Regions from separate parts of the Homo sapiens genome. Here all the other regions are linked to region 2. The links come from fine-mapping of genetic effects on gene expression. A gene starts in region 2. Each other region holds a variant in brackets. All regions are shown on one strand. Distances are between the middles of the regions. Region 1 overlaps FLVCR2 (FLVCR choline and putative heme transporter 2). Region 2 holds the start of FLVCR2 (FLVCR choline and putative heme transporter 2). Region 3 overlaps FLVCR2 (FLVCR choline and putative heme transporter 2). Region 4 overlaps FLVCR2 (FLVCR choline and putative heme transporter 2).

The links. PIP is the estimated chance that this variant, and not a neighbour inherited with it, causes the effect.
Region 1: its variant is the best candidate, but not a certain one, in a credible set for the expression of FLVCR2 in left ventricle (GTEx, PIP 0.69).
Region 3: its variant is the best candidate, but not a certain one, in a credible set for the expression of FLVCR2 in subcutaneous fat (GTEx, PIP 0.52).
Region 4: its variant is the best candidate, but not a certain one, in a credible set for the expression of FLVCR2 in monocytes (TOPMed, PIP 0.63).

Annotation. Positions count from the first base shown.
Region 1 is chr14:75,623,968-75,632,258 of GRCh38, reverse strand. FLVCR2 (FLVCR choline and putative heme transporter 2) reads right to left here. Exons shown (of 10, transcript NM_017791.3): 3 at 7,507-7,647. Among named protein-coding and RNA genes, the nearest start is that of ERG28, 33 kb to the left of the region's middle. The variant C/T (reference allele first, on the strand shown) is at 5,140.
Region 2 is chr14:75,573,862-75,582,152 of GRCh38, reverse strand. FLVCR2 (FLVCR choline and putative heme transporter 2) reads right to left here and starts at 3,533. Exons shown (of 10, transcript NM_017791.3): 1 at 2,512-3,533. The coding sequence starts at 3,180. FLVCR2-AS1 (FLVCR2 antisense RNA 1) reads left to right here and starts at 2,565. Exons shown (of 3, transcript NR_110552.1): 1 at 2,565-4,376; 2 at 5,608-5,748; 3 at 7,060-7,252. RefSeq lists a silencer at 3,588-3,657 and an enhancer at 4,368-4,427.
Region 3 is chr14:75,614,704-75,621,598 of GRCh38, reverse strand. The region is part of intron 1 of FLVCR2 (FLVCR choline and putative heme transporter 2); the gene reads right to left. Among named protein-coding and RNA genes, the nearest start is that of FLVCR2-AS1, 39 kb to the right of the region's middle. The variant A/G (reference allele first, on the strand shown) is at 2,523.
Region 4 is chr14:75,604,264-75,612,554 of GRCh38, reverse strand. All of the region lies in intron 1 of FLVCR2 (FLVCR choline and putative heme transporter 2), which reads right to left. It also overlaps the pseudogene RNA5SP387. Among named protein-coding and RNA genes, the nearest start is that of FLVCR2-AS1, 29 kb to the right of the region's middle. The variant G/A (reference allele first, on the strand shown) is at 4,243.

The DNA of each region.
Region 1 (8,291 bases), 50 kb before region 2:
GTCAAATTATCTTGCAAAATGGGAAATAATTTGCTTTGCAATCACACAGGTATTAAGTGATGGAGCTGGATTTGAACTCAGGCCCTGTGGCTCCAGATTTCTTGATCTTAATCACTCTGCTTTACATCCTCACAAAGCTGATTATTGAATCAGATTTTCCCAGCTCAGGTCATGAACAATTTCCTCATGTCCCAGCCTCTCCCAGCAGTTCACCCCAGGGATGCTACAAGGTTGGGCTCAATGCAGTCTCCTGAGCAGCACAGTGGGCCAACTGTGCACACAGTGAGCAGCACAGTGAGCCACAGTGGGCCAACCAACCCAGACATGTCCCCAAACATCACTACAACTGACAGGCTGATGGTTGCAATGATCATGAGGCTCTCAGCAACATCTCATTCAAGCAGCATTCCCATCTGCCCTTCATAGTACATACTCAGCCACTTAGAAAGTCCATTTCCGAGTGAAGAGATCCCGTAAGGAGACATTCCTGAAAAGCCAAGTGAGGTGGAGCGTGGGAAGGAGAAGAAAGAAAATAGTCTCCTCCCGTCTTCCCATTCATTCCTCCCGCTCCTCTCTAAGCCTCTTGCCTGCCCTAGCCTGATACTGCAAAGGGCAAGGAATGTTCCAACTCAGGCTTAGCTTCAGGGGAACAGCTGCTTTGCTAACTGGGATGAGCCAAGGATGGCAGAATCCACAGAAAAAGAAAGGAAATTATCCAGAAGGACTGGGAGCAAAAAAAATACACCAGTGCTCACTGGTCCTGATAAAGACCTGGGGAACAGAGTCCTGAACAGGTTGGCCCATACTGCTGAAGCTGAGTGGTTTTTCTGGGGCTCAATGGTTTAGTGAAATAGTTTCCAAAGTGTGGTCTCTGTTCCACCCCAGACCTACTGCAGCAGAAACTCTGGGAGTGAGGCCCCCGGCAATTTGCATTTGAATAAGCCTCCCAGGTGATTCTGATCGTGCTCCAGGTGGAAGCACTGGCTCCCTAGAGCAATGTGGTTAAACAACAGCCATCCCTGCTCCAGGCCAGACAGCAGACTGAAGCGGGGCTAAAGGGCGGCGAGAGGGAAGGAAGAGCAGGGGTTCATCCTGGAGGGCTGCCAATCTGTTCCACTGTTTCTGCAGCCCCACCTTAGAGGATTTAGGAGCTTATGTATGTTTTCTGAATCCATCTTTGGTCTAGATGTCCCTCACCATATTGTCAAAGTTTGCCAGACACAGTTAACCAGCGTAAGTCCACTCTACTGCCAAAACAAAGGGGTTGGGCATCCCACACAGAAGGGCAGGAATGAAATGCATGCTCCTTCCTGTGTGAGTACCCCTTACAGGAGTACAGGTGACTGCATTCTATTCAGGTCTGATCATCCTCAGCAAGGTGAGCCTGCTGGGCCAGGGAAGAGAAAATGTGATCTTCCCTGAAAGGCCTGGTCATTCCTGGAATCAGTCACCTGGGAGTAGTGCCACTTACTGAGGAGGCAGGCTTTAGAGAGGCAGAAAGGACTCTGTCATCATTCTGAGTCTCTTTCTCTCCTTTGTCAAAAACAATTTTTTTCTTTGTAAAAAATTTCTTTGGGGTCTCGCTATGTTTACCAGGCTGGTCTTGAATTCCTGACCTCAAACGATCCTCCCACTTTGGCCACCCAAAGTGCTGGGATTACAGGTGTGAGCCATCAAGCCCAGCCAATAACAATTTTATTCAAACTGTGTTCCGGTGACTACTGACATTAGAATTCCTTAAAGTTTAAAACTGCAGATTTTGAGGCCCTACCATAGACCTACTGAATCAGAATCTCTTGGAATGGGGCCCAGGAATCTGCATCTTTAGCAACTACAACAATAAAACCCCAATGCACTTGTTAAAATGTCTGGAATTTGAGAATACATGGCCTTCAAGATACAAAAGATCAGGGACCAGACCCAGGCTCCCAGGTGGTGGGGTTAACATGGAGGCAGCTGGGATGGGAAGGCGCTTCAAGACCCATCACACAGCTACCTCAGAGGTTCTCAACTCTGCTGCAAGTCAGAATTATCTGGGATGCTGGTAGAAAGCAGATTCCTAGGCCCCAACCCAAACTTTCTGAATCTGAATTTCCAGAAATCTATGCACACATTCAATCAAGCACCCCAGGGGGTCCTATCCTCAGGGAAGTCTGGGAAACACTGACCCCAGATCATATCTTTGGGTTTTGGTTATTCTGCGTTTCCCTTTAGTCCTTGTTTTAAAGGGCCAGCTTGACCTCGGCAAAGCTCCCAGGAATCTGGAGGATTTTATGCCCACTCCTCAGCCAGGATTTTAGAGGGGGCATGAAGCCCCCTCCCTAGGTCCATGTAGGTGGAGCAATGATAAAGTGCTGAGAGCCCCAAGGGAAGGTGAACCTTGGGATACACAAGTTGAGGCTCTGAGTTCAGATGCCAGAGGCACTGCAAGTTTATTCAGAAGCATGAATAATCTTGCTGGCAGCAAGTCTGGGGCATAACTATGGGAAAAGTACGCCCTTTGAGTATGCCATTTTCTAGAAGAGAAGCCTTTTCAACAATTCTTTTCAACAGGGCAGTTGTTATGCCATTGATAATAAGACATTAGAGGAGGCCATGTGAATGCAAGATCCAGAGACACAAAGAGAAGGTAGCCAGAGGAAGGTTCCTTTCTCCATCCCACCCTACCCTACTGTGAAACACACCAGAGACACAAAGAGAAGGTAGCCAGAGGAAGGTTCCTTTCTCCATCCCACCCTACCCTACTGTGAAACACACCAAAGACACTGGCAGACAGGTGGAATTTCTGGTTCCCTGAGTCTTCCCACATTGCCAAAGTTAAAGGAGAGAGGAAGGGTGTTTTACTGGCAGTTTCTTACTGATATGATATTTCCGCAACATCAAGCACGAGCTCCACCCCTGCACCTCTCCCCCTCTAAACTGAATTGCCAGATTTTGAAAAAAAATAGCAAATAAATACATTTATAATAAATAATAGTTCTTAGTATAAATATGCCACAAATATTGCATAAGACATATTTATATTAAAAGTATTTGTTGTTTATCTGAAATTCAGATTAACTGGATGGTCTTTATTTTATCTCTCAACCCTACCTCTAAGAGTGTAGCCAGAAGTCTAGGGAAAAGCCAGCAACACTTGGACCCTCGATTTCCTCCAAGGCCTTCAATTATCGCTGCACCTCAGTTCTGGGCAGTTGACTCATCAGCTGGGAGAACCACTTGAAAAGCCACTACAAATACAATACCACCAGCTGCAGGACAGTTACTCCCCCTCTTAGTGAAATCTGGTTTGGACCAAAGAAGCAACGCTGGAAACCAGTAAGTTTACCAATGCAATAGCATTGCAGTCTGGCAATGGCAGACTGGCAGTCTGGAGGCATGCCATGTCTTTATTCTCAACTGCATTAAAAGCTTTCACTTCCATTCAGAACACTCCAATGGGAAATAAGTATCATTACTGTTTTCTAGTGGGGGTGGAGAGTATTAAAGAGATGAAGGATGGGCAGCACAGATGGATGAAGGTGGTACACTCAGTATCTGGCAGAGCTGACACCAAAACTCAGACCTCCCATTTCTTATGAGCCAACTCTGAACTTACGAGTCCAGCACTCAAGGCTCTTAACCCAAGACATGTCCACCCATGTCCAGTACATGTGCCTGTGAAATGCTGTTGCCTGCTTAATTCCTAGCCACATGCTCTTTAAATGCATATAATTCAGAGCTAAATATGAACACTATGTGTACAATGTAAAAAGTATGAACCATTTTGTTCTTCAAAGTCCAATCTGAAACTGCAAGGGGATTAGGAGGACTGGGGTAATTCTGGAGGATTTCAAAGCATCTAGTTGAATTGATAGAGGGCATTTTAGAAAATTGTTTTTGTTGGGAGGCCAAGGCGGGCAGATCACCTGAGGTCAGGAGTTCGAGACCAGCCTGGTCAACATGGTGAAACCCTGTCTCTACTAAAAACACAAAAATTCCCTGGATGTGGTGGCGGGTACCTGTAATCCCAGCTACTCGGGAGGCTGAGTCAAGAGAATTGCTCAAACCTGGAAGGTGGAGGTTGCAGTGAGCCGAGATCATGCCACTGCACTCCAGCTTGGGCGACAGAGTAAGACTCTGTTTAAAAAAAAAAATTGTTTTTGTTTTTGTTTGTTTTAATTTGGAACAAACACAGTAGGAAAAGAAAGCAAAGATTAACAGTTGGAGTAAGTGCCTATAGTTCTCGCCCTATAGGCAAGAAGCTAAAACTCTAGAGCCTCAGTTTCCTCATGTATAAAATGAAACAAAGGGCTATGTCATGGGTTTGTTTTGAAAATTAAATGAGATAATGCATGTAAAGCAATTAACATGATTCCTCCGTCAAAAATTTTTTCAAATCTGTGATTAAGTCTAAGAATCATTTTCTTTTTGGCAAAGAACCCCATATGGACATCACATTCTCCAGAGTTTCCTTTCAGCATTTTCAGGCAGCCTCTTGTTCACCCCAACTGTTATCCCCACTGCAGGCAGCTACAATGTTAAGCAGTGCCATTGACTGTTTTCAACAAATGCCCTGGCAATAGGGCTTTTCCCATTAGCAAACTCCAAGTCAGGTTAAATAGCAACATGTCCTATGAATAGGGCTTTTCCGGGGACCTGCTAGGTAGGTCAAATAGTAATTCTCAGGGGTGGAGCTCCAAATCGACTTTGCTCCCTCCAATGGCTATGAGACAGTTGGTTTTCACAGCTCCACGGCTGCGAGGCTGCTGGATGTCACAGCCCCATGGCTGCAAGGCTGTAGTAGGGAGAAAGGGATTGGAATAGGGCAAGTGAAAACACAAGGCCCACTGTTGTTACTGATATTTAGCCATTTCTCTTGAATAAATGCTGCTTGGATTGTTGCAAGCCATTTGTTAAAAGTTCTGAAAAAATTCATTTGGATATTTTTTGCCATTGTTCTTGTTTCTATAGAGGAGCGGATTTTCTAAGGTCCTTACTCCACCATTCAAGAAGTGCTTTCCTATTTATTTCCTCGGTTATCATTTAATCAAATAGATAAGGAAAAGTGTCCAGAAGTACAGGATTAAAACTACTTTGTCAGATTAAAGACCACGTAAGCAAACAGGCATGTGAGAGGAAGGAGGAGGAGTAGCTTTG[C/T]TCCCCACAGCATGGCCTAGGCTTGACCCCTCGATGACCAGGAGCAACAATGTTTCTGGTACATTTTGTCTCTGTTTCTTGTTCTCATGAGTCAGTGACCTGGCCCTAAGACCAACAACCTCCAGCACTGAGGACCACAGCCTTTGGAATGGGACCATTGCCCAGTTATCACCACTGTCACCATTTTCAGCTATAGAAAATATTTATGAAGCACTCATCTGCCCTAGAATCCCAGGTAGGCCTCAAATATCCTCTTGTTAGATGCAGCAAGATTTATGGTTGTCAGAGGTCAATGCACTCATGATGTCCAACTCTAGCGAAAGTAAAAGCTCTTAGAGTCATGGAATCCTGAGTCTAGAAGGGCCCCCAAAGGCCATCTGGTTTCACTATCCATCTTTAGCCTGAGATCCCCTACAACATTCCCATCAAGTGGTTAGTCCCATCTATGCTTGAATACCTTCCGGTGATGGGGAACTTGTAACTTCCTTAGTTGGACTTCTCTAAGCATTGGAAACTTTGTCTTTATTTTGCGGATGAATGGGGAGACATACTCAGAGAATTGAGAAACTGGAGGAAATGAGGAACGGAGGACCAAGATCTTGAAGACAAACCTACAGCTATTCCAGATGAAAGGTCACCTAATTTCTATGTATGCCTGAAAAACAGGATTGCCCCTCTACCAGGATGAAGCCACCTCTTATCTAGTGTTTCAGCAGATAAACATTTTAGTTGAGATAAAATGTATTGTTGAGCCTAAAATGAAACTCTGGCACAATTCTAGGAAGGAACATCAGCAATTACAGAACAGGCATTAAGAATGCAGATTTTGGCTGGGCGCAGTGGCTCACACCTGTAATCCCAGCACTTTGGGAGGCCAAGGTGAGCAGATCACCTGAGGCCAGGAGTTTGAGACCAGACTGGCCAACATGACAAAACCCTGGCTCTACTAAAAATACAAAAATTAGCCGGGCATGGTGGCATGTGCCTGTAATCCCAGCTACTCGGGAGGCTGAGGCAGAAGAATTGCTTGAGCCGGGGAGGCAGAGGCTGCAGTAAGCCCAGATCGCACCACTGCACTCCAGTGTGGGCAAAAAGAGGCAAACTCTGTCTTAAAAAAAAGAAAAAAAGCAAAAGAATGAGACTTTGGAGTTAGACAAACTTGTATTTGAACTCTGGCTCTGCCACTTGAAAGTTGTGTGACCTTGGGCTAGTTATTTGGCCACTTTGAGTTTAGTTTCCTCATCTGTTAAATAGGGATAATTTTAGTACCAACATCACATAGGTGTACTGGAAGTTAAATAAAATCAGATATGAAAAGCACCTGACACATAGTAAGCACTATTGTTGTTATAAAACATAAAACAATAGCTTTTGAGTCTATAGGCAACATGAAGCCATGGCCAACTGGGGTTTCACTAAGAATAAGTCATGTCAAACCAATTTCATTTCTTTGTTTCATATGGTTACGGTACATGTCACAGATTTGCTAACGCTTAGTTTTAATCAAACTTTAACTGGTGGATTAAATGACCAAATGTAGGCTGAATAGCAATAAAGGTGGGTAGATATGTAGCAGCTTGAACTAAGGGTACTAACTAATAGACTGGCATTCATCTGGAGGACACTCTTTAGTGGAATGCTATGAGGCTCTGTCTTTGCCCTTGTTCGATCCAACAATCTTATTACAGGTTTGAAATAAGATACAGAAAACACCATGCGGGGAAAGAAAGCCAACATGTTAGCATAAAGATTCCAATTTATCTTTCCAAGAGCCAAGCAAATGAAATGAAAGAGGGATGTTGTTGTGCATTCAGATAAAATAGAAGTCAATTACAGGATGAGGGAGGACTGGTTGAGGAGTGACTCATGTGGCAAGACACATATATGCATGCATGCATTAATTAATTAACTAATTCAGTAACTACTGGAATAGTCACTCGAGGCCCGACACTGCTGAGGAACTATAAAGATGAAAAACATAAATCCACACTCAGAGAGTTCAGTCTAATGGGGAAATAGACCTGCAAAAAAATTTTTTTTTAATGACAGGTGTTAAGATGTACAAGGAATAGCATGGTAAGAGAGGGAAAGTTACCTACTACTGCTTTACAAAAGTGATACTGAGATGAGACTTGGAGGACCAACAGGCATTTGTCAGATAACCTGACATGGGAAGAAATTATTTTCTAGGTGGACTTTACAACACATGCAAAGGCCCTTGGGCATAGCTGGGTCCTCTGGATTGACCCTAGACAACAGCTTTACATGCACATTTGGGATTTAGAAAGAGTAATATATGAAGACACATCAGGCCTCTCATCTAACATTTCCAGCTCGAATGCATTCCTAGACACATTGACACCTTACCATAGGTGATGACAAGCAGCACAAAGTTGAGATTTTTGAAGAGCCGGGCGATGGAACCTAAGTATGAGGCATCAGGAGAGGTCAAGGCATAGCTCAGGGATTGGGCCCTGCTGGGGGGATATTTAGGTTTCTCCTTGAACACTGAAAGGAAAAAAACAGAGATGGCTGAAAATTCCCATGGTCCCACCCCAGAAGAGCTGGTTCCACATGAATGAAAGCTGCTCCATCATCTGAGAGGAGCTAAGACTCCCAAAGGAAATAGTAATTCTTTAATTAAACCCTTAACAGCCCCCTTCTTGAAGCTGCTTCTCATTGTTTGAGGCTGAGTGAATGGTCCTTTGATACCATTCACTTTTTTATTTTTTATGCCATTTTCTTTTTTTTTTTCTTTATTTTTTTTGAGACGGAGTCTCGCTCTGTCACCCAGGCTGGCGCCATCTCGGCTTACTGCAACCTCCACCTCCTGGGCTCAAGCAATTCTCCCATCTCGGCCTCCTGAGTAGCTGGGACTACAGGCGTATGCCACCACACCTGGCTAATTTTTTGTATTTTTCATAGAGATGGGGTTTTGCCATGTTGCCCAGGCTGGTCTCAAACTTCTGAGCTCAAGCGATTTGCATGCCTCAGCCCCCCATAGTGCTGGGATTACAGGCGTGAGCCACCGCACCCGGACTGATTACTTCTGCTTTTCTTTTTTTTTTGAGACGAAGTCTCGCTCTGTCGCCCAGGCTGGAGCACAGTGGTGTGATCTTCGCTCACTGCAGCCTCTGCCTCCCGGGTTCAAG
Region 2 (8,291 bases):
AAGGCATCAGATCTCATCACTCAGGGCAATGCTTATGCTGATATGGTAGCTAAAGAAGCAGCTAGCATTACAACTTCTGTCCCTCACGGCCAGTTTTTCTCCTTCTCATCGGTCACTCCCACCTACTCTCCCACTGAAACTTCAACCTACCAATCTCTTCCCACACAAGGCAAACGGTTCTTGGACCAAGGAAAATATCTCCTTTCAGCCTCACAGGCCCATTCTATTCTGTTGTCATTTCATAACCTCTTCCATGTGGGTTCCCGCCTCTTAGAACCTCTCATTTCCTTTCCATCATGGAAATCTATCCTAAAGGAAATCACTTCTCAGTGTTCCATTTGCTATTCTACTACTCCTCAGGGATTGTTCAGGCCCCCTCCCTTCCCTACATATCAAGCTTGGGGATTTGCCCCCGCCCAGGACTGGCAAATTGACTTTACTCACATGCCCCGAGTCAGGAAACTAAAATACCTCTTGGTCTGGGTAGACACTTTCACTGGATGGGTAGAGGCCTTTCCCACAGGGTCTGAGAAGGCCACTGCGGTCATTTCTTCCCTTCTGTCAGACATAATTCCTCAGTTTGGCCTTCCCACCTCTATACAGTCCAATAACGGACCAGCCTTTACTAGTGGAATCACCCAAGCAGTTTCTCAGGCTCTTGGTATTCAGTAAAACCTTCATACCCCTTACCGTCCTCAATCTTCAAGAAAGGTAGAATGGACTAACGGTCTTTTAAAAACACACCTCACCAAGCTCAGCTTCAAACTTAAAAAAGAGGACTCTGTCAAGAATAGAGCCCAAAAACTCACCAAACAAACAAGTAATTATGCTAAATCCCCTTGGACCCCTTTGGACACTCTCTAATTAGATGTCCTAGGTCCTCCCAATTCTTAGTCCTTTAATACCTGTTTTTCTCCTTCTCTTTTTCAGACCTTGTGTCTTCCGTTTAGTTTCTCAATTCATACAAAACCGCATCCAGGCCATCACCAATCATTCTATACGACCAATGTTTCTTCTAACAACCCCACAGTATCACCCCTTACCCCAAAACCGTTCTTCAGCTGAGTCTCTCCCACTGTAGGTTCCCACGCTGCCCCTAATCCCGCTCGAAGCAGTCCTGAGAAACATCTCCCATTATCTCTCCATACCACCCCCAAAATTTTTCGCTGCTCCAACACTTCACTATTTTGTTTTGCTTTTCTTATTAATATAAGAAGACAGGAATGTCAGGCCTCTGAGCCCAAGCTAAGCCATCCTATCCCCTGTGACCTGCATGCTTCAGGCAATCCAGATTGCCTGAAGCAACTGAAGATCCACAAAAAAAGTGAAAATAGCCTTAACTGATTTCATTCCACCATTGTGATTTGTTTCGCCCCACCCTAATTGATCAATGTACTTTGTAATTTCCCCCACCCTTAAGAAGGCTCTTTGTAATTCTCCCCACCCTTGAGAATGTACTTTGAGATCCACCCTGTCTGAAAAACATTGCTCCTAACTCCACCACCTATCCCAAAACCTATAAGAACTGATGATAATCCACCACCCTTTGCTGACTCCTTTTTCAGACTCAGCCTGCTTACACCCAGGTGAAATAAACAGCCTTGTTGCTCACACAAAGCCTGTTTGGTGGTCTCTTCACATGGACGTGTGAGACAGGATTACCAATCCTTTGTTAAACACACAGCCAGGACTGTACGTGCTTGGAAAGATGCGAGACTGGGAGGCAGTGGTCTGGCTAAAGGACGTTTGCTTTAAATATTCCCATAAATATTTGCTTCGAGTATTTGGAGACGGCATTCAGGTTCACAACCTGCCCAGCTTTCTGGATCATAACCACATTGAGATGCAAAGAATTTGAGCTTCTCCTTCCAATAAGAAAGAAAGAGAAAAAGATTAAGACATGAACTACCCTTTCTAGGCCATGGAAACTCAGAGTGAGATTTCTACTCCATCCTGCTGGACTTGGCTCTAAATCCCAGGCAAGGAGTTTGGCACAAAGCACTGCTCCCACTGTCCTGGCTTCAGCTGTGTGTAAAACAAGGTAAAAGCAGTGCCAAACACCACCAGGCATGGCTTTGCAATTCTATGCAGTAGAGGAGATACTGCACTCTAGGAAAGCTGGTTGGTCCAACTGAAAGCACTGCCAAGTTCTGATGACACCAGAATAGTCTGATGCCCAGGGGCTGCTGCCAGACAGAAGAGCATTCCTGAAATTACAGGTCTAAGTTGGTGGACTGACACAGGTTCGAGAACGACACAGCGAAGGTATAGTATGTTCTAGAAGCATGCTTTTGGCTGGGGCAAGAGCAACTGTGGATGAAAGAGCAGGTCCCCCTGCTTTTGTTTCCCGCCTCTCTTACAGCATCACAATCACTGCCTGTCACACCCAGTTACTGTCACCCAGAGTCACAAACACTGTTGGACAATCAGCAAATTATAGCCTACCACACCCAATAGTTAGGTGCAATCTAACACACGCCCCTGGGAACATTCACAAACTGTTCTACCTACCTGATTGCCAAAGACAGCCACGGAGCAGGCTGTTGAAACCTCATTAGCCCCGAACCAGACGGAAGCGATGCGGGAGGGCATGCCCAGGATGAAAACCTGGGCCACAGAGCAGATGAGCTGGCCCACCACGGTGACCGGAAAGAGATGCGGCTTCAGGCTGCCCAGCTTCACCCAGGCCCCCAGGCAGTTGAGAGCCGAGCCAGTGAGAGCAATGGTGCGCAGGCCGAACTTCTCCAGCAGCCAAGCCACTGGCAGGAGCAGAGGGATGTAAGTCAGCATGTAGCACATGGACAGCCAGTCAATGGCAAAGGCACTGACACCGTAGAAGTGCATGAAGATGTTATTGATGGAGCCGTACTGGATCCACTGAAAGGAGTTGCACATGGAGTAGCAGCTAAACACCAGGACCACGGCCCAACGGCGCCTGCTCACCTTGATCACGCTGAGGTCCTCAGGGCCCGAGCTACTGGGGTGAGCCAAGCCACTGGGTTGGGCTAAGGCACTGGGGTGGGCCGAACTGCTGGGGTGGACAGAGACGCTGGGGTTGATGGAGACGCTGGGATGGACCGAGACGCTGGGATGGACCGAGACGCTGGGGTCCGCTTGGAGTGCGGACTCCGGCACAGGGGTGTCATCGCTCTCTTCCTGGTTGGGACCTTCATTCACCATCGCCACAGTCTCCTCTGGAATCCTGGAGAAGTGGTGAGGACTCCGGCAGTCTTAAGGGACAGTGGCCTCTGCTGGTCTCTTAGAGTTGAAAGGACACTTGCCTATTCCAGAAGAAACAGAGACTAGAGGCTGCGTAAAAGCCTCAAGTGGGGCTTCCTGTGCTCACCTCCAAGCTCCTGCTCCCACTTTTGCTTGGGGCTCTCTGTTGCCACCCGCGGCGATCGCTGTCCCAAGGCCGGCCGCACACGCCGCAGCCGGCTCCGGACCGCTCCTGCCTTGGGTCTCCCCACGAGGCGTTCCTTGTGCAGGAAAAGTTCTCTCCTTGCGCAGCCACTTCGCCCGCAGAGTCCTCTCCCGGGCCAGCTTGGGGCCTCGCCCAGTCGGGCACACGTGACCGCCCCGCCCCCGTCCTGCCTGGCTTCTTCCGCCCCCAACCCCCCCGCCACCACTCCACCCCCGACCCAGTGTCTCTTGCCTTCTCGAGCCCGGTCCTCCGGGCAGAGCAGTTGTTTCGCCACAGCTTGCGGGATGCATTCCTCCCCCACGCCCCGGGCGCCATGGAAACCGCCCGGTTAACCCCCACCCTTTGCACTGCCCCTCATATTCATTTGCCACCCGCTATCAGCGGACCCTGCAAGAAGATCCGCCTTCCCGAAGTAATGCCCAAAATAGAGCCTCTCCGGTGCCTGTCCGCATGCCCTGCGCGCGTGCACCAAAGCCCGGCGCCACCTAAGTGTTCTGGGGAATTCAAGAGGGATTCCCCAACTTTCTCCCCCTTGGCTTAGGCTCCCAGCCCTTTGCTGAACTAAAGAGAGATTTGTAGATTTCCCGGGCTGGTTGCGCTCCTGGGTTAAAGGGGAGTTACAGAAAACTCGCTTTACTCGCTTCTTTCCCTGCGGACGTGGTTTTGTCTTGGGGAGGTTAGATTTGAACCTGTTATGTGGGGCTATTTTTCCTGATGGATTCTGGGCGAAGACCCTAGGGTGCGGGGGAGGGAAAGGAGAGTTTGAAGAAGCCGAAGAAGCTGTCCGCGGTTGTGTGATGGAACGCTTAGCACAGAGCTGGCTCCGGGCTTGGTCTTGGAAGCGGTCTTTGAACTCAAGCAGCCCTAGTCTGCCACCTGCCGGTCCTAGCCCATTTCAAAGGGCAAACCCTCGACTCGTTGCACTGACCTCTGTCCTTGGCGAGGGATCCTGGTAAGGAGCCCAAATTCTCCCTGAGTTCAAACACCAGCTTAGCTACAATGAGGTGCCACTGTAGACCAAGGAACTCCACCTCTCTGCGCTTCAGTTTCTTCATCTGTAAAATGGAAATGATGAAATAATAGTACCTACCTCACCGTGTTGTTCTGAGACTTGAATGAATTAATACACGAATGCACTTAGAAAATTCCTGCCACATAGTAAGCATTCCGCGAATGCTGGCTATCCTAGCAAAAAGCTAACATTTGTTGTACAGTGCTAAACAAATTGAATGCATTAGCTCATTTATGCATCACAAGAATTCTGTGATAAAGTTACTATTGCTGGCCTAAATTTTATAGACAAGAAAACCCAGACTCAGAGAAGTGAAGTAACTTCTTTCTGAAGGTCCCAGCTGGCAAGAAGAGCCATAATTCTCGTTCAAGTCTGTAATCATTCAAGCTGTAGCCTAGCTATTCAAGCACAGTCTGTGGTTAGCAGCGTGGGCACCTGTGGGAGCTTTTTAGAAGGCCAGAATCCCCTCCAGTGTTAAGGCCTTAAAAAACAAAACGGCAACCACAAAACAACCAAGAAGGTTGTCAGGCCCAACCTAGACCCACTGAATTGAAAGCTGCATTTTAACAAGATGCCCAGGAGATTCATTTGTTTACACATTAAATTTTGAGAGCTACTGGGCATCACTGCTTCTTTATTTTTTTTTTCTTTGTTAAACTTCAGACCAGAAAATGAATAACTTGAAGCTCTGGGAAGTGGCTCTCCATTTTGTCTGCACATTAGAATCATATGAAGAAACTCTTAATATCCCAAGTGTTCGGGCAACACCCCATTTAGCGATCTCCGAGGGTGGACCTGAACATCTGCATGTCACAAGCTCCGCTGGTCATCCAAACGTGCAGCCAAGTTAGAACCACTGATTCCCAGGAGAGAACTAGATTCAAATGATCACTCCCTGCTTGAAGGCACCTACTTTTTGGTAGAAACTATAGAGTCTTGGATTATAATGGAATATTTGGAGAGGGAGTTCAGACTCAGATCTAAGAATTTCTACAGTAATTTAACATCTCGTATTGTCACTATTCCTCCTGTGTTTCCCATCATTCTCCAGGGAGCACAGAACTCTGTTCTTTTAGAAGGCCTTCTGAGACCTCTCACTGCTTCTTTTCCCTCGGTCATCATGGGCCTCTTCCAAAACTCTTCATAATATATTCTTAACTTCATTTTACAGATAAGGAAACTGAGGCCTGGAGAGGCGGGTGTGTTACTCAGCGTCCTATAGTGAAATAGCATCAGAACAAGCAGCAATAAAATGGGTGCTCCTTCCACGTGGCCTTTCCCATGAGCTCTTCTGGGGCAGCCCTTCAGCTTGGTGAGAGATTCCAAGGGGTCTAACCTGGGATTCAAGTGAGATTTGGAATTGCTTTTGTGGTGGAACGAGCTGGATCTGTTGTGAGATCTGGGTTGGGTCTGCTTAGACTTGAAGCTCTGTTTTGTCATTCTTAGCTTTGGTATCTTGAGCAAGTCACTTGACCTCTCTATTCTTCAGTTTCTGAATCTATCAAATAAGGATTAAAAATACCTGCCTCCAGCCTGGCACGGTGGCTCACACTTGTAATCTCAGCACTTCGGGATGCCGAGATGGGTGGATCACTTGAGGTCAGGAGTTCAAGACCACCCTGGCCAACATGGTGAAACCCCGTCTCTACTAAAAATACAAAAATTAGCCAGGTGTGGTGGCACATGCCTGTAATCTCAGCTACTTGGGAGGCTGAGGCAGGAGAATCACTTGAACCTGGGAGGCAGAGGCTGCAGTGAGCTGAGATGGCACTACTGCATTCCAGCCTGAGAGACAGAGCGAGACTCTGTCTCAAAAACAAAAAAACAAAACAAACAAAAACCTGCCTCATAGAATTGCTGTGAGAATTAAACAAGCTAATATGCATAAACTGTTTTCAATAATAATGATCATATTCTGGGAGCCACCAGGGTAGGGATGACTCTTGGCTGATTCCTAATGTGGGGGGTAGGGTGTTGGGGTCATCTCTATAAATATTGGGTAGATACTACATAGAGAGAAATATTCTGTATTCATCCCATTGAAAAAACATGTATTGAGCAGCTTACTATGTAGCATATCTATCTTTATGATGTTCTTACTATGTAGCATATCTATCTTTATGATGTTCTATCTATCAGTACCTATAGGTACACTTTGAAGGGTAAGGAGAAATACATTTTAGGGATTGCTTCCTGAAAGGGGGCTCTGGTTCCTGGTTCCTGGCTCTATTCCAACTGACACCTTAGGAAGCTTGAGGGAACGAACCTCTGGCATTGAACTCAAGCTTGTGTGGCCTCTTGCAGAATGATAGTTAAGTCAGCCCACTGGAGGCTATCAGCAACTCCTGGATTCAAAGCCAAAACATCACCCTCTTATTTATAGCTTACTACTAGCCAAACAGAGCTATAGATTTAAGAGGTAAGGAGTTTGTTGAGTGCAGGGGAAGGCCAAATTTCTAACAGAATGAATCAGGTTGGGAGCCGGCATTATTCTTTCTTAAAAATATCAACACTTGGAATTTGTGAAAATGTTGCCCTTACAAGTTTTACATGCATAATTTATATGTGTGATACTACATGCTCATCAATATTCTGTTTGCCTTATCTCCCCCACTTCCCTCAGATTTCTAGCTGTCTCAGGACTTGTGGATATTTTTGTATATTTTGGAGTGTTTAGTGAGATAAACTATGTAACACACGCTCTCAATACGTATCTGTAGAATTGAGTTGTACTGCATATCACCATGAAATTTTACAAAACTGGAGACAAAGAGGAGATCCAACAGGATTTCAGAGATTTTAAAAAATCAGAAAAAGTTAAAAAAAAAAAACCAGATACAAAATATCAACACAGTTGCCTCAAGCCTGGAAATTTGAAGTCAGTGGAACAATGCCTTCTGAAGAAAAACCGTTTCTTACCTAGAATGCTATATCCAAACTACCAAAAAATCAGTTTGAGAAGAGAGTGAAACAACAAATGATACTGCCTTATCTTCTCTCTCAGGAAGCTGCTGAAGGATGTGCTCCACCAAAACAAGGAAGGAAACCTAGAGAGGGGAAGAGGTTAAGGCTGAGGAAACCGGGAATCCGCCACAAAAGGCAAACAATGGGAATCACCCAGCTAAAGGAAACTCCTGGGTAGACAGCTATCTACCAGGCATAAAAAGCAGTGTACTCGGCTGGTCGTGGTGGCTCATGCCTGTAATCCCAGCACTTTGGGAGGCTGAGGCGGGTGGATCACCTGAGGTCAGGAGTTCTAGATCGGCCTGGCCAACATGGTGAAACCCCATCTCTACTAAAAATACAAAAATTAGCCGGGCGTGGTGGCAGGCACCTGTAATCCCAGTTACTCAGGAGGCTGAGGCAGGAGAATCGCTTGAACCCAGGAGGCAGAGGTTGCAATGAGCCGAGATCGTGCCATCGCACTCCAGCTGGGGGGACAAGAGCAAGACTTTGTCCCCCCAAAAAAAAGAAAAAAGAAAAAAAAAGAAAGCAGCATACTCAGGCTGAAGCTGCTTTGAAGACTCCAAGGAAGAGTTCTTCAAGAAAGTCACACTGAAAGAATCATGTTTGAAAATATTGAGAGGTTTACACAATAGGGGGAAGATTAGGGGTTGGACTAATGATAAGTACCATAAATATAACTAAGTAAATGGGGAAAAGGAAGCATTATTAACTCCAGTGGAATAAACAAACTATGGAGGAAAAGGAAAAAATAATCATGATATACCCTAAGTGATTTGATTTGCATAGCATGAACACAATCCTAATAAAGTGAACACTGGGAGTTGATGTATCTAAAGCTATGATATAACACAGTTAGCAGGATGGGGGAGTGGGAAGCGGGCACCTGTG
Region 3 (6,895 bases), 40 kb before region 2:
TACAAGCATGGAAGCTTCAGTTTATTGTGTGAATAACGTAGTAACTTCTAAAGCATCTGTAGTGTGAAGTCACACATAACTGCATAAATTTATACACATAGGAGATAGGCACGTAAAAAATGGCTATAAACACACACACACCCCCAACAAATTAAACCATTTCTTTTTTTTTTCTTTTTCTTTTTTTTTTTTTAAATGGAGTCTCGCTGTGTCGCCTGGCTGGAGTGCAGTGGCGCAATCTCGGCTCACTGCAGCCTCCGCCTCCTGGGTTCAAGCAATTCTCCTGCCTCAGCCTCCTGAGCAACTGGAACTACAGGCGTGCGCCACACCTGGCTAATTTTTGTATTTTTAGTAGAGACGGGTTTCACCATGTCGGCCAGGATGGTCTCCATCTCTTGACCTCGTGATCCACCCGTCTTGGCCTCCCAAAGTGCTAAACCATTTCTTATCTGGGTTGGAGTCCAAACTCCAGTGACCGACAGATAACATGACTTGGGTGTTTCCGAGGTCAGAAAGGCTTGGCTTCAGTACTGACTGGCTGTGATACAATTCCCAAAAGCCCTTCTGCTGCACATAATATTGAGGCGGAAATGGGAAAATAGCTTGTGAACTCAGGCAAGCTTCAGATTCCAAGAGTGAAGGAAGATGAGTAATTCCTTTGTCGTAAGGTCTCATTTTTCCTTTGTTGTACTTGAAAGAGCTACAGGTAAAGAAACAATTTGCTTTCGCTCCTCACTTTCACATCATCCATCAACTGCCAATCTGCTGACCCCCTTGATTCGTTTTTCCTTCTGTCAATTACAGCCATTCAAGATGTTTACTAGTGGTTCTCAGTTCTGGAATATTCACAAAAGTGGTCACTCATAGTTGCTGTGTAGAGTTCTTTATACCAGTATGTAATCAATTAACCAAATGCATCTTTAAAACGTACTCTGCTAGATATTTTAGAAAGTACCAAGAGGTATAAGACAGAGTTTCTGCCTTCAAGGAGCTTAATAATCTGTTAGCAGGAAAAATGTTAAAACAAAAATACAACAGATAACACAACTGGCCATATTTGTGGGTTAAAATGATAGAATATTACAGTTTGAAAGTTCATCTGTAATCGTTTATTATAATTACAAACCCAATAATTACAGGAGAAAACAAAGGCCAAGTGAGGTTAATTGAGCTCTGTGACTTGTTGAGGGTCACCCAGAGTTCTAGCAGAGTGGAGGTGAGAAAGCAGATCTCCTGGCTTCTCTGGCCAGTGCATCCCAGGCTAAGAGCCTGGAGAAAGGCCCAGGCAGGCAGGCTTCTGCAGAACAGAGGCCTCTTTTGTGTCCTTGGAGCTTTAGCTGATCCTTGGTCATACTGGTTTGTCAGAGTCAGGCTTCCTACTGCTCATCTTCAAGACTTTAATTGAAGGTAGAAACCAGCCACAAGCAGAGGGGCAAATGCAACCTTCTTCATAGCTGGGAAGCTGGGCCCACTCCAGCTCATATATGGCCTTCTAAGCACTTTGGAGTTGGAGGTCTGGAAGTTAAGTAGAATCTCCCAGGGTCCCATTTGCAAGAGTGAGGAAAGATACAGACATCATCTGAGGCTCTGTGACTCTTTCATTTCCAAAGGAAAATTAAAGCTCTGAGGTCCCAACACAGGATATCTTAATTCTCAGTTAATCTTCTGCCCCATTAAAGAAATCCTCCCAGCTGGTGCTACACTGTATGCCCTCCTCCTCTGGGGCAGCTGGACTCTGTTCATTCCATCTATACACCAAGCTTGAGTGAGTGCTGTTCCACCCCAACTCCGGCTTTTAAGCCTTCTCCAGGCAGCAGGTTGGATGGGTGGGCCTTAGCAGTGGCCTACAGTAACCCCAGCTGGGCAGCAACACTGTCTCATGGTAACCTTTCTCAAGGAGGAAATTGGCTATGGAGGTACATTTATGCCCAGTGTGGAAAACCAAAACATCAGGATTAGACTGTAAGCTGCTTCCTCTTTTGTTTTTTCAATACATATTTTTTTCCTGCTTCTTAAGAGCAGTGTTTAGGGAGAGTCTATTTCTAGTTCCTAGTATATAGGTCTGTTCCATAGTCATGATGGATGGATGGATGGATGGATGGATGGATGGATGGATGGATGAGCAGATGAACGTTGGTGGAAAATCCTGTCTACACAAAGCTAGGAATGACACATCTCTCTATTAAGGTCCAGGTTCTTTCTACATTGTACTCACAGTGGTAAGAAAAAAAAATGTGTATGGGAAAGTAAGGAGAGGGTAGGATACCCTAGTGTATCTTGAGCATCTACTATGCGCCGAATATGTAATACACTTTATCTTTTCATTTAACCCCAATAACTTTATTTATTTTTAATTAATTATTATTATTTTCTGAGACGGGGTCTCACTCTGTCACCAGGACGGAGTGCAGTGGCATGATCTCAGTTCACTGCAACCTCTGCCGCCTCCCAGGTTCAAGTGATTCTCCTACCTCAGCCTCCCAAGTAGCTGGGATTACAGGTGCCCACCAACATGCCTGGCT[A/G]ATTTTTGTATTTTTAGTAGAGACAGGGTTTCCCCATGTTGGCCAGGTTGGTCTCAAACTCCTGACCTCAAGTGATCTGCCCGCCTCGGCCTCCCAAAGCGCTGGGATTACAGGCGTGAGCCACTGCACCCAGCCTATCGCCAATAACTTTGTAACAACAAAAAAGAGAGAGGGCAAAAAAAAAAAAAAAACCCTGCTGCTCAGCACCCTGCCCAGGGTCACACAGGCAGCTAGCAGAGGAGCTGGGCTCCTAAGCCAGTTCTGTCTGATGTCAGAACCCAGGCTCACTTTGCTGCCTTCCATGAAATGTTGGTGTGATACTAGTCAACACGGAAGTCTACATTTTCACCCATTTGGGTTGTCATTCATTTGACAGGAAACCTCTGGGGTACAAATCAGAGACCTGGGGCCTGAATCAGTGAAACATTAATTTAAAATGTGGGAGAACGGGGCACATGGAGCATTTGGCATCTTTCCTGGAGACCCACCTTGGGAAGGCAAATGAATGAATGTCACTGCTAACTGGTTTTGAGTTGACTTACATCCCTGCACTTGTTCTAGTTTTATCATTCTCAACAAAACACAAAGTCATGGGCAAAATACAAAATTCATGGTCAAACCAAGTCATAGTCTTAGCTCTTCTGGAACATACTTTTCAAAATTAGGCTCTCTTCATTTTTACCCATCCCATAGCAGTATTTCCCAAACTTGTCCCATAACAAACGTCACCAGTACCAACCCCGTTTTTATCCCTCAGGTCTGAGGTGGGTCCTAGGTACCTGTATTTTCATATGCAGGCATCCCCATCTTCATCAAGGGAGTTGGGGAGATACTGGCCTCTGAAAAAGTATGACTCATGCCTCCTAATAGCTTCCATGCAGCTCTGCTCCTAGCTATTTTCCATGATAGCCAGCCATCTTTGGAAAACGTCCTGCTTAACACCCTGCAGTGACTTCTCCTTGCTTTAAATTAGAGGTAAAAATCCTAAGCACAGCCCACAAGGTTCTGCACATGGGCTCTGTCTAATGGTCTGACCCTTGTCACCAGCTTGTTCCTCAGGACTTTGCTACACTGAGCTCCTTTCTGTCTTTCAAGTGACCATGGGGAGTTTGCACCAGCTCCTCTACCTGGACTAGAATCTCTCTCTGCCCTGTTTCAGCTAGTCAATGCAGATATCCTTCAGGTCTGAGTGCAAATCCTGCTTCCTCAGGAAGGTTGCTCTAATCCCTTACATGAGGTTGGGTTCCTGCATAGGTAATTTTATATTTGTATGATCATTTAATTAACATCTGTCTTCCCAACCAGATTATAAGCTCCATGAGGGCAGGGCTCACACTGATCTCTGCAGGCTGGCACATGATAATACTCATCATAGTAAAATGTATGAGCTTTATGCAGAGTATCTCAAGCCTCACAACAACCCCAGAAAGAGGGGTCTAACATCGTCCCAATTTTACAGATGATGAAGCTGAGATGCAGGAAGGCTAACTGACTTGCTCAAGGTCACACAGCTATAGGTAGCAAAGCTAGAGTTTTCAACATACAGTATTTCAAAGTTAGGTAAGCTTTACAACTATAGTTTACTTCATCCCAATAGAGGGTGTTTAACAAAAAATGTGATGAATGAAGGGATGGAGAGGCAGCCTGGGATATTTAATTTTCATTTTCTATTTTATTTTCACCCTTTCTGCAAACTCAAAGGTGACCTCTAAATGCTACTGTAATGTCAGTAATCAGGAACGTTTCCAGAGCAAATGTCACAGTTAAAAACATGTCTATGTCGTCTGAGGGCCCTAGGTGACAGGGAGAAGCCATACTTTGAATGATGTCTCACTTGTGATTCTAGCTCATGCATTTGGCAGAGCAAGAATAAAACCAGAAAATCATCAGGCTGCGTCTGGGGTAAGATTTCCATACCCAACCCATTACACAACACAACACACATGCTATGCCAGCTCTGAGATCCACAGAACCACTGTTTCCCATCCTCTTCCACCATCCACTGTCCCCACCCACCATTCACAAAGCCCTAAGTCACAATTGAATCAGAACCCTAGCACACAGATGCCCTCCTAAATCCTACCTAGTCATGGGGCCAGAATATGGCCAGGCCATCCAGGGAGGATCCAAGAGCTTCCCCAAAAGGCAAGGCAAGGAGCTCTTTGTCCACACAGTGGTGAGGGCTTCAGTCCAAATGGAACAGGAAAAGAACCAGTAGTCCCCATCTGAGCCTTTTGCTGGGTCCCAGGCAGCTTATCCTCTTGACCCAAGCCACTGGCAAGGTGGATCCTGCTCCTGTTAGGAGACAACAACCTCCACAAACAGGTTCTCACCTACTGAAACTCATTCCTCTCCCAACGTGCTGTGCTATTCAGACAAAGGCAAGCCCACCCTCACCCCTAGGGCTGGGCCCCAATTTGCTCAAACCAATTGGCTCATTCCTCTCCCCTGGGCATAATCACTGGGTATGGCTGGACATGTTCCCTTAGATTTCAGAGCTCTCAGGAGCTATCTTCCTAGTGCTGAGTCAAAAAAGTCCATACTCCATAAACATGTAAAATGCCATGTATCAATTAAAAAATATATATATGTATGTATCCCTTTATTGAGCCAGCTGCTTTCTTTGCACCAGAGTCCCTGAGGCTGAAGGCTTCCATCAAATTTGGTCCCTTTATGACCTAATCTGGGGCTTGCCTCATGCCCATGCTATGCTATTTTTATTTTTTAAATTAAAAAAAATTTTTTTTTTTTGAGACAGAGTCTCACTCTGTCGCCAGGCTGGAGTGCAGTGGCGCAATCTTGGCTCACTGCAACCTCCGCCTCCTGGGTTCAAGCAATTCTCCTGCCTCAGCCTCCCAAGTAGCTGGAACTACAGGATCATGACACCATGCCTGGCTGATTTTTTAATTTTTTGTGGAATTGGGGTCTCTCACTATGTTGCCTAGGCTGGTCTCAAGTGGTCTTCCCATCTCAGCTTCCCAAAATATTGAGATTACAGGTATGAGCCACCATAACTGGACTTACGCTATTTTTTTTTTTTTTTTTTTTTTGAGATGGAGTCTCACTCTGTCACCCAGGCTGGAGTGCAGTGGCACGATCTCGGCTCACTGCAAGCTCCATCTCCCGGGTTCATGCCATTCTCCTGCCTCAGCTTCCCGAGTAGCTGGGATTACAGGTTCCCGCCACCACATCTGGCTAATTTTTTTTTTTTTTTGTATTTTTAGTAGAGACAGGGTTTCATGTGTTAGCCAGGATGGTCTCAATCTCCTGACCTTGTGATCCGCCCGCCTCGGCCTCCCAAAATGCTGGGATTATAGGCATGAGCCATGACGCCCAGCCGGCCTTATGCTTTTTTAAATGAATCTCCCACTTCTCCTTTCTGCTTCAACATTCCTCAGAGACATCATCATACTAATATAGTGCTTAAGGGCTCAGGGTCAGGGGTCAGAAAGATCTCAATTCAAATCTCGGCCCTACCAGTTACTAGAGCTTGGCAAGTTAATTGACCTCTCTGTGTGTTTCCTAATCCACAAGAGGAAGAAAATACCACCTAGCTCATCGGGCTGAGGCTCACTCCCTGTCTGCAGGGTTGGCCCTTTCCCACACACTCTCACACAGCAGAGGTGACAGGCAGCAGAGGCCACTGGGACTCCCAAGATGCACTTGGTTTATTTGGGGAAGTCATACAAACCATCATCCTACCCTGGTTCTGCTTCACTTCCTTCTCTGGCTCCATCTGCGTGTCCTTCCTCAATTATCTTAGTCATCTTTGACTCTGCCCTCTTATATGCACTTCGTCTCAGATCCTCCCAAACCCTTCTGCAAAGTCCTCTTTGAATCTGCCCTGTCCCACTTCGGACCTTTCTGCCTTTCTCCCAGGCAACTGTGATCTCTCCTCTGCCCGACCTGCATGATGTACTCACATTCATGGTCCTTGGCGTTGCATTGACCCCACCGTCCCTGCTTAAAGAACTTCAAGGTGTCAGCCCTCTCAGAGGAAGGAAGCAGGTCCAAACCCCTCAGCTACTGTTCTTAGCCATTGATTTGGTTTGGCTCTGTGTCCCCACCAAAATCTCATCTCGAATTGTAATCCCCATGTGCCAAGGAAGGGGCCTGGTGGGAGGTGACTGGATCATGGGGGCAGTTTCTCCCATGGTATTCTCATGGTAGTGAGTTCTCACAAGACCTGATGGTTAGAAAAATGTTTGACAGTTCCTCCTTCAGACGCTCTCTCTCTCGCTCTCTTGCCTACCACCATGTAAGATGTGCCTGTTTCCCCTTCCACCATGATTGTAAGTTTCCTGAGGCCTCCCTAGCCATTTGGAGCAGTGAGTCAATTAAACCTCTTTTCTTTATAAATTACCCAGTTTCAA
Region 4 (8,291 bases), 30 kb before region 2:
TCGGGATCAAGGAGGTAGCAGGCCTTCAAAGACAAAGACAATCTAAACAACCTCATTGATTTGGTGGAAAATCACTCAGGAAGGGGGTTTATGGATTTAAAGGCTAAGCTAAGATCTCTAAGAACTTAGGGAGTAGGGTTACAGCTGGCCAACTCCAGACTTCCTTCAAGCTCCCGCCCCCGTCACAGGGTTTGTCCTGAAAGCTGTGATTATGCTGGTGGCTTTTACTGCCCTGACTCCTGGATTCCCTCAGTTCTTTGGGTGAAAGAGGTTAGAGAAATGCAGGAAGCAGCAGCTACTGAAATTAGGATAGCCTACAATCATTGATCCCTAGGGAAGATAATAATAGCGATGAGAGCTGATACACTGTGCTCAAAGCACCCTATAAATATATATACTCTTTGAATCATTTTATTTTTTAATTATTAATTTTTTTCTTTTGGGGGGCAACACTTCACTCCATAAAATAGAAGGCGTGCTCCCCTAATGTCTATTTTAAAGTGGAGGAAATTGGCATTTAAGTAGCTTGCCCAAGGTCACATAACAGTAAGCGATGAGGCTAAACTTCAAGCTCTGGCCATCAGTACTCATCTGTACTCTTATCCATTAGGTTAAAGGCGCTGGTCTTAAATGTTACTCAAACCAGGAGGAAGGAGGTGAATATGTACTGAGTGTCTGCTATGTGTTAGACAGCATGCTAAAGGCTTTTTCACATGATATTTCATCTATGCCCTCACAACTACCCCCTGAAGTTGGCACCATCATCTCTGGTTTGGGTTTTGTTTGTGGGTTTTTTTGTTTGTTTGTTTGTTTGTTTGTGAGACAGGGTCTCACTCTGTTGCCCAGGCTAGTGCAGTGGTGCGATCTCGGCTCACTGAAGCTTCTACTTCCCTGGCTCAAGCAATCCTCTCACCTCGGCCTCCCAAGTAGCTGCGACCACAGACATGCGCCCAACACACCTGGCTAATTTTTTGTATTTTTAGGAGAGACGGGGTTTCACCATGTTGCCCAGGTTGGTCTCGAACTCCTGGGCTCAAGCAATTCACCTGCCTCGGCCTCCCAAAGCGCTGGGATTACAGGCATGAGCCACTGTGCCTTGGCCTCTGGTTTGGTTTTTACAGATGAGAAAGCCTCTATAATTTGCCCAAGGTCAAAACAGCTTCTCCTGGCAAAACTGAGATTCATACCCTTGGCTATCTGATTCCAAAGCCCTCAACGGACAAGGTGAATGCCACAGAAAAGTGACTGCCCTCACACCCGACACTCCCTCCAGTCTCATATGCTCCATTCTGTAGTTCAAATGTCCCCAAATGTGTAGCTGTCGGAGGAAGCAAGGGTGAGAGGTGTCTCCAGCTACAGTTTGGTTTCTTTGCCACAGTTACACTTTACAGGTTTCTTGTTTTTATGTCATGCTTAGTTTTGTTTCTTTTTGTGTAGTGTGTTGTCTCCCAAACTAAACTGTTAGTACCTTGAGGACAGGGACATTGACTCACATTTGCTCATGTGACCCTCCCGCATACCACGTCTGACACAATCACAAGAACAGAGACAGCACTCAGGAAATATTTTCTGAGTGAAGAAATAACTCTTAGAACTGTGCAGCTCAAACCTCACTCAAGTCTTTCCAGGCTGCTCTGCAGTAAACAAGTTGGGCACAGTAGCAGTTTGCTGCATTGTAAGAGTTTAACCACCCAAAGCGAGTAGATGCCAGATGAAATGACCTAAGGAAGCCCCCAGACAGGGAAGACCTCTCATTTGGGGTGCCCCAAGATCAGGCATGGAGGGGATTCGAATGCAGACCAATCAACTTCTCACTCTTAGACCTACACTCAGTATTTATTGAGCACCTGCTGCATACTAGGCACCCTACTCAGAAGGGAAGAGAAAGATGCAAGACAAGGAGCTCACTCTCACCCGGTTTATAATGTAATATACCTTGATCTTGACCTACAGCCTTGGTGTTGGGTTTCCTCCTCATCTTTGTGGGGGGTGCAAGTTAGCTGAAGAGCAGAGATACACTAGGCTGTAAACAGAGAAGTTGCTAAGTTTAGGTGAAGAAAATGAGTTTCACAAGGAAAGTTTTCTGATTAAAGAAAAAAAAAGGAACACTGACAAAGGCCGTGTTTTATTTTTTTAGCTAAGCCCGGTATTTATGCTTGCTTTCTGTCATCATGAACTCAGGAGCTTCCTGGCACACACTCCTCCTTTTAAGGACTTGGTGTTCCCCTTGAAGTTGTCCTCATGGTGAACTCCACAAAGGGCCAGCCTAGGTCTACTTTGGGTGCAGAAGTGAAGAATCCACTGCCTTTTCTTTCAGTGAGAGAACAAATCACTGTCACCTCAATACATTAATGTCCCTCTAGCTGACTGTGCTGAAAGCCAGTGGTCACAGAACTTCCCCATGACTCGGCTAGGAAGGAGGAAAAATGAGTGGGTGTCTTTCAAACCACCCGGCCAGCTGAGATCACATCAGATCACATCATGCAAATCTTACTCCAAAGTTTTCACATTTGAAGTAGGCGATGTGCAAAGCGCCATTCAAATGCTTTGGCACTGATTGCCCACCAATTCTGTCCCAGACACCAGCAATCAACAGCCAACAGAGGGATTCTCCGGTCTTCTGCATTCCCTTAACACTAACCCCCCATCTATCCCCCCCAACTCAAAGGTGCCACTCCCTGACCTTTGACAGATAAAACAGCCCAAAGGAGAATAATTGTCTCCTTTGTCTGCAAGGCAACATTCTGGCATTCCTAAAAGGGATGCTCACGTGACGACCAATGTTTCTAATCCTCCCATGTTTCCTTCTAAATCTGGATGGACTTTCTGGTAATAGCCCTCCTATTCTGATTTTTTCAGGGGTAAAACCCTGCCAATTACTTACTGGCAGGCCCTGGAAGAGTTGCTGCTTCATGGACTGCCATGGGCAAAACCCAGTTCCTCTGGAGCATGCACTTCAAGAAATAGATAGGATGGGACCCATGTAGCTTTTTCCTAAGAAGCCAACTTCATAAGTTAACTAAGCTTGCCTCAGGATCCCAGACAGACAGCTGGAAAGAAAAAGAAATCTCAAGCTTACACCAAAAAAACTATTAGTCACTCACATCTATAACGCCCTGAGAGAGAGAAAGAGAGAGATTGCAGCACCATTAGATCTGGCCCTGTTATTTAGGGAGTTACTCAGGGACCTGCTTAGCTAAAAACATCTCCTAATATCCTGCTTTGAAGTCACCCGCCCTCCTACTTGGGCTGACATTTGCACCATTAGCCGCTCCGGTGTGACTGGCTTATAGTGTAATCTCTCTTCCCTTCAATGTGAACTCTACAAGAACAGAGGGCTATTGCCAACAGGGACCTTCCCTTTCCCATTCATTGCTGCATCCCCAGCTGTGAAAATGTTTGTTGTTTGGCACAGAGTAGATGCTCAATAATATTTGTTCAATAAATAAAATAAAGGCTATGGTGCATTGTCTAAAAAAAAAACACATGACAGGCCAAGGGGAGGAGGGCCTTCTTTAGTGGCTTTCATTTCTCTCATTGCCTGCTGTCAACTGGAAAGACATAGGGAAGCTGGCTGGAGGGGATGCAATTCAGGACAAGCAGGATTCAAGGAACTTGTTGTAGAACAGAGACAAAGATGTGATAGCCAGGGGACTGTGTGGGTTATTTGCAAGGGACAGAGGTCTGGCCCAGGATGGGGGCACACTAATAAAGGACATGGCTTTTGGTGGGGCAGCATGAGAATACGGGGGCAGCCATACCCAGGGAAGACAATGAGGAACCTTCCTCCCTAAGGAGAGATATAAGAATTCTGGAGAGAGAAGCTTGTCGAACGGAAACTGCAACATCTTCCTAAGGGTTCCAACATCTTCACAAGGGCTGTCCAAGCCCTACCGATCCCCATTTGTTACCATCGATCATTGCCACTTGCTAACTGTGAGGGGCTGCGAGAAAACTTGGTAGGGCCAGGACCACCATGCCCTCAGGATAAAACTTCTCCCTCCCAGGCCTATGTCCTGAGGGTGGGGATGAATCAGTTCTGTGCTATGCCACCACAGCCATTTTCCTACACTGAAGAGAGGAACCATCTTAGGCACATATAGACTCAAACGTTGCATCGTGCCACTCCTGGCAAAAGGCCCCTCTGCAGCAAGCGGTCAGTTTCCTGGAATGAAAAAGAACCAGAATGCTCCACAGGATTCCTGGAGCCGCCGAACAGCTCAGCTCAAGAGGATCAAATCA[G/A]CAAGTATAGCTTCCTTTCTTTGCCGATGAGAGGAAGGCTTTGAAACCCAGAAGCTCTGAGAGAGTCTCCTACGGTAAGGATGATGGAGCTTATCCTGAACCATGAGCCGGTGTAAAGGCAGGAGTGCTGAGCCCTCTACATGGAGGGCATGGCCCCCAATCCAGGCAGGACACGATGTGTGTCTAGAGAAGCCCTTTTTATTCTACTGTCAAAGGGCAAGTCCAGAGTATTTTTTGATTTTTTAGATGAGAACTCACACTGTTGCCCAGGCTGGAGTGCAGTGGTGCAATTACTGCTCACTGTAACCTCAAACTCCTGGGCTCAAGTGATCCTCTCTAGCTCCCAAGTAGCTAGAACTACAGGCATGTGCCACCACACCCAACCAACTTTTTAACTATTTTTGTAGAGATAGAGTCTCACTATGTTGCGAAGACTGGCCTTAAACTCCTGGCATCAAGTGATTCTCCCACCTCAACCTCCCTAAGTGCTAGGATTACAGGTGTGAACCACCACACCGAGCCCCCCTTTTTTTTTGAGTTCAAGAAAGGGCACTAAAAGTCAACACTGGCAAAATATTTCACCATTTTCAAGGCACCTACACATCCGATATATTACCAGAGCCTCAAAACCACCCAGTGAGATCAAGAGCAGGATGCCCAAAGTCCAGACGAGGAAGCAGAGACCTGTCAGGGCCAAACTGTCTTCTCTACTTCATAACTGAGTTGAAGCAACTTGAAGTCACAGAGCTAATCATCAACATCGAGACTTCTGAGGTTCCATTCCCAGCCCTGCTCTCTTCCCATGGAACCTTGCTGAGTCTCAAAAAGGCACAAAGCAGCATCATATCCCCAGAAGACATGGTCTGAGACTCAGGATGATCCAGAACCACTTCTGGTTTGGAGCCAGCCAATTCATGAATCACTGTTTGCTCAAATAAACTCTTAAAAAAATTTTAATTGCACCTCCGTTTACCTTTTTTAACACTAGCATGTTGTAGAACATGAGTTTGGTAGAGAGGGAAAAGATAGATATGGACTCAGTAAATGTTTACAGAGGGCTTACTTGGTTCCAGGAGCTGTTTCACATAGACATTGCCTCATTTAGCTTTCATGGCAACCCTGTGAGGCAGGCATTCTTGCTATAGAAAAAAAAGCTGATGCCCAAAGAGGACAGGTATCCTGCTGGAGGCCCCAAACATGGCTGCTGGGTCCAGCTTCCATGGCTTCTATACCAGGAGTTTTCAAACTTCAGTGGGCATCAGAATCCCTAGAAGGAGAATCAAAAATACATATTCCTGGGTCCCAACCTAGAGGAGCTAATTCCTTGGGTCTGCTCTGGTGCCCAGGAATTTGCTTTTTTTTTTTTCTTAAGACAGGGTCTCACTCTGTCCCTCAGGCTGGAGTGAGGTGGCATGATCTTGGCGCACTGCAACCTCCACCTCCCAGGCTCAGGTGATCCCCCAACCTCAGCCTCCTGGGTAGCTAGTACTACAGGCAGGCACCACCATGCCTGGCTAATTTTTTGTAAAGACGGGGTTTTTCCATGTTGCCCAGGCTGGTTTCCAACTCCTGGACTCAAGCAATCCTCCTGCCTTGGCCTCCCAAAGGGCTGGGATTATAGGTGTGAGTCTCTGAATTTGCATTTTTAATGAACACCCACGTGGTTCTGGTGCAGGGGCTCATGCAGCATACTTTAGAAACAATTGATCTCCACCACTCTGAGGAAGGAAATCAAGAGAATTCTCAGCTGCTGGCTTCCCCTATGTACCCTAGGCAGGAATGGTGGGAGAGAGGTGTGTTCCTGTCTAGCTTCTCAGCAGAGAAGGGATGAATCCTGGGTGTGCTCAAATGGGTGTCTCCACAAACCTGTCCAGCACCCAACAGGAAGCCCGGGATAAAGGTCTAAGGAGGCCTAGATTGCTCAAAAGGCAGCTACTAGCCCAAACAAACAGCCTTGAGAATGAACCCTGCTTTAACATGGATGCCTCACCAGGGTGGTGGCTCACATCTGTAATCCCAGCACTTTGGGAGACAGAGGAAGGCAGATCACTTGAGCCCAGGAGTTCAAGACCAGCCCTGGCAACGTGGCAAAACCCCATCTCTACAAAAAAATACAAAAATTGGCCAGGCGTGGTAGCATGAGCCTGTAGTTCCAGCTATTCGAAAGGATGAGGTGAGGTGGGAGGATCACCTGAGCCCGGGGAGGTTGAGGCTACAGTGAGCCGTGATCATGCTACCGCACTCCAGCCTGGGCGACAGACTGAGACACTGTTTCAAAAAACGAAACAAAAGCCCACGAATGCCTTATGCCTGCTCACCTCCTATGTTTTCCAGTAGATGAACACAGCAAATAGACTTGCATACAGACAGCTACCTCTAGAGCCGCCAAAGGAGACCCAGCCATGTCAACCCAGTCATTGTATGCAGAAATCAGGAGTTTCCAGGGGAGAGAAGAAAAAAAGGAGAAAACCAGCTCCCAACCTTGCTCCAGCTTCTGTGTCCCTCTTTTCCGGAGCTGGCAGGGCTGTGCAATCAAAAGCAGCCTCCTGGAACTGAAAAATACTTGTGTTCAACTCCTCTCTGGAGAAGCAATCGGAGGGGAGCCAAAGCAAACACTCCTCCCTCCTAAGGCTCCGGACACACGGCTGAACCCAAAGAAGTTGGGAAGGAAGTAAGATCTATCCTCACCTCCTGTCTCACGCTTCTACAAACACAGATGGTGCTGCTGTTATCTGCGCTCATGCTGGGACAAGGCTGCGTCTTGAATTGTGTTGGGGTGAGAGGCTGAGCTCAAGTTTTTGCACAGCATGAAAAAGGAAAGATGCCTGTAATCAAGTCAGAAAGCAGAAGTGTCTGGCTGGGCCACCAGAGCTTACAGGGTGCCCTCCCACCTATGAATGACTCACCAAAGAAAAAGGCCCTTAGCTCTGTAGAATCAAGGGAGGGGAGATATTCCACTGGGTTAACTTGGGAATGGTGCTAGGTAGAAAGAAGTCAGGAGGTCAAGAAAGAAAGAAGAGGAAACACCACATATCACCTTAACCCTATGGTGATGGTGATGGTGGTGGTGGTTGTTGTTTTAATCATCCTTGATGGCACTCCAACCTACATCCTGCAATCCACACAGGGCTGTTTGATGTTGAGGCTTGGGGGGAGTTCAAGTCAAGGGAAGGACATCCTGTTAACAGCATTGTTGGAAAAAGATCAAGAACAAGGAGATGGAAAATAGCTGTGAACACCTGATAAGCCTGGGCGCCCCCCGCCCGGTCCCCCTACCCCTGCCCGCTTCCTTCAGTCTCAGGTTTGTGAGACTAAAGTCTTGTGCACAGGCATAGGGGTTGACCCAGTGAGTATCTGTGTCACCCCAGAGTCTCCAAAGTCTTCATCACCGCACTCTGGGAATATTACACCAACTTCCTGCACCCATATTGCTTTTAGTTTAAGTAGCTCTCAAGAGGCACAAGTCTCCATCAGGATACTACTGGGATACTTCCTGGAATGGCCCAACCTCCCCTATGTACCAACCCCTGGTCACTTCACTCATTAGGAATCAGCTCAACCTTCACCTTAAGGAAGCTGCCCTGCTTGTCCACACTGCACCCACACTGGGGCAATGTCCGGTAGTATTAGGAGAGATTTCAGTATTGGCCTCTCTTTCTAGATCCAGAACCAACAGAAGACAGAGGCGATTACCTTTATTGATGATGGTACTGAAAACATCTGTTCTTTATTTAATACTTTTTTTTTTTTAGGTAGAGACAGGGATCTTACTATGTTGCCCAGGCTGGTCTTGAACTCCTAGGCTTAAGCAATCCTCCCTCTTGGCCTCTCAAAGTGCTGAGATTACAGGCATGTGCCATGACAGCAGACCTCATTTAGCACTTCTTATCTGAGAAACTACTATCTAAATGCTGTCCACATATTGTCTCATTGAATCCCTTCCTGTAGCTTCTGCAGTTGCCAGTATGAATGCTATTTTACCAAAGAAGCCCAAACCTATGAAAGTTATGAGACTTGTCAAAGGGTACACAGCAGATCTAGCGACAGTA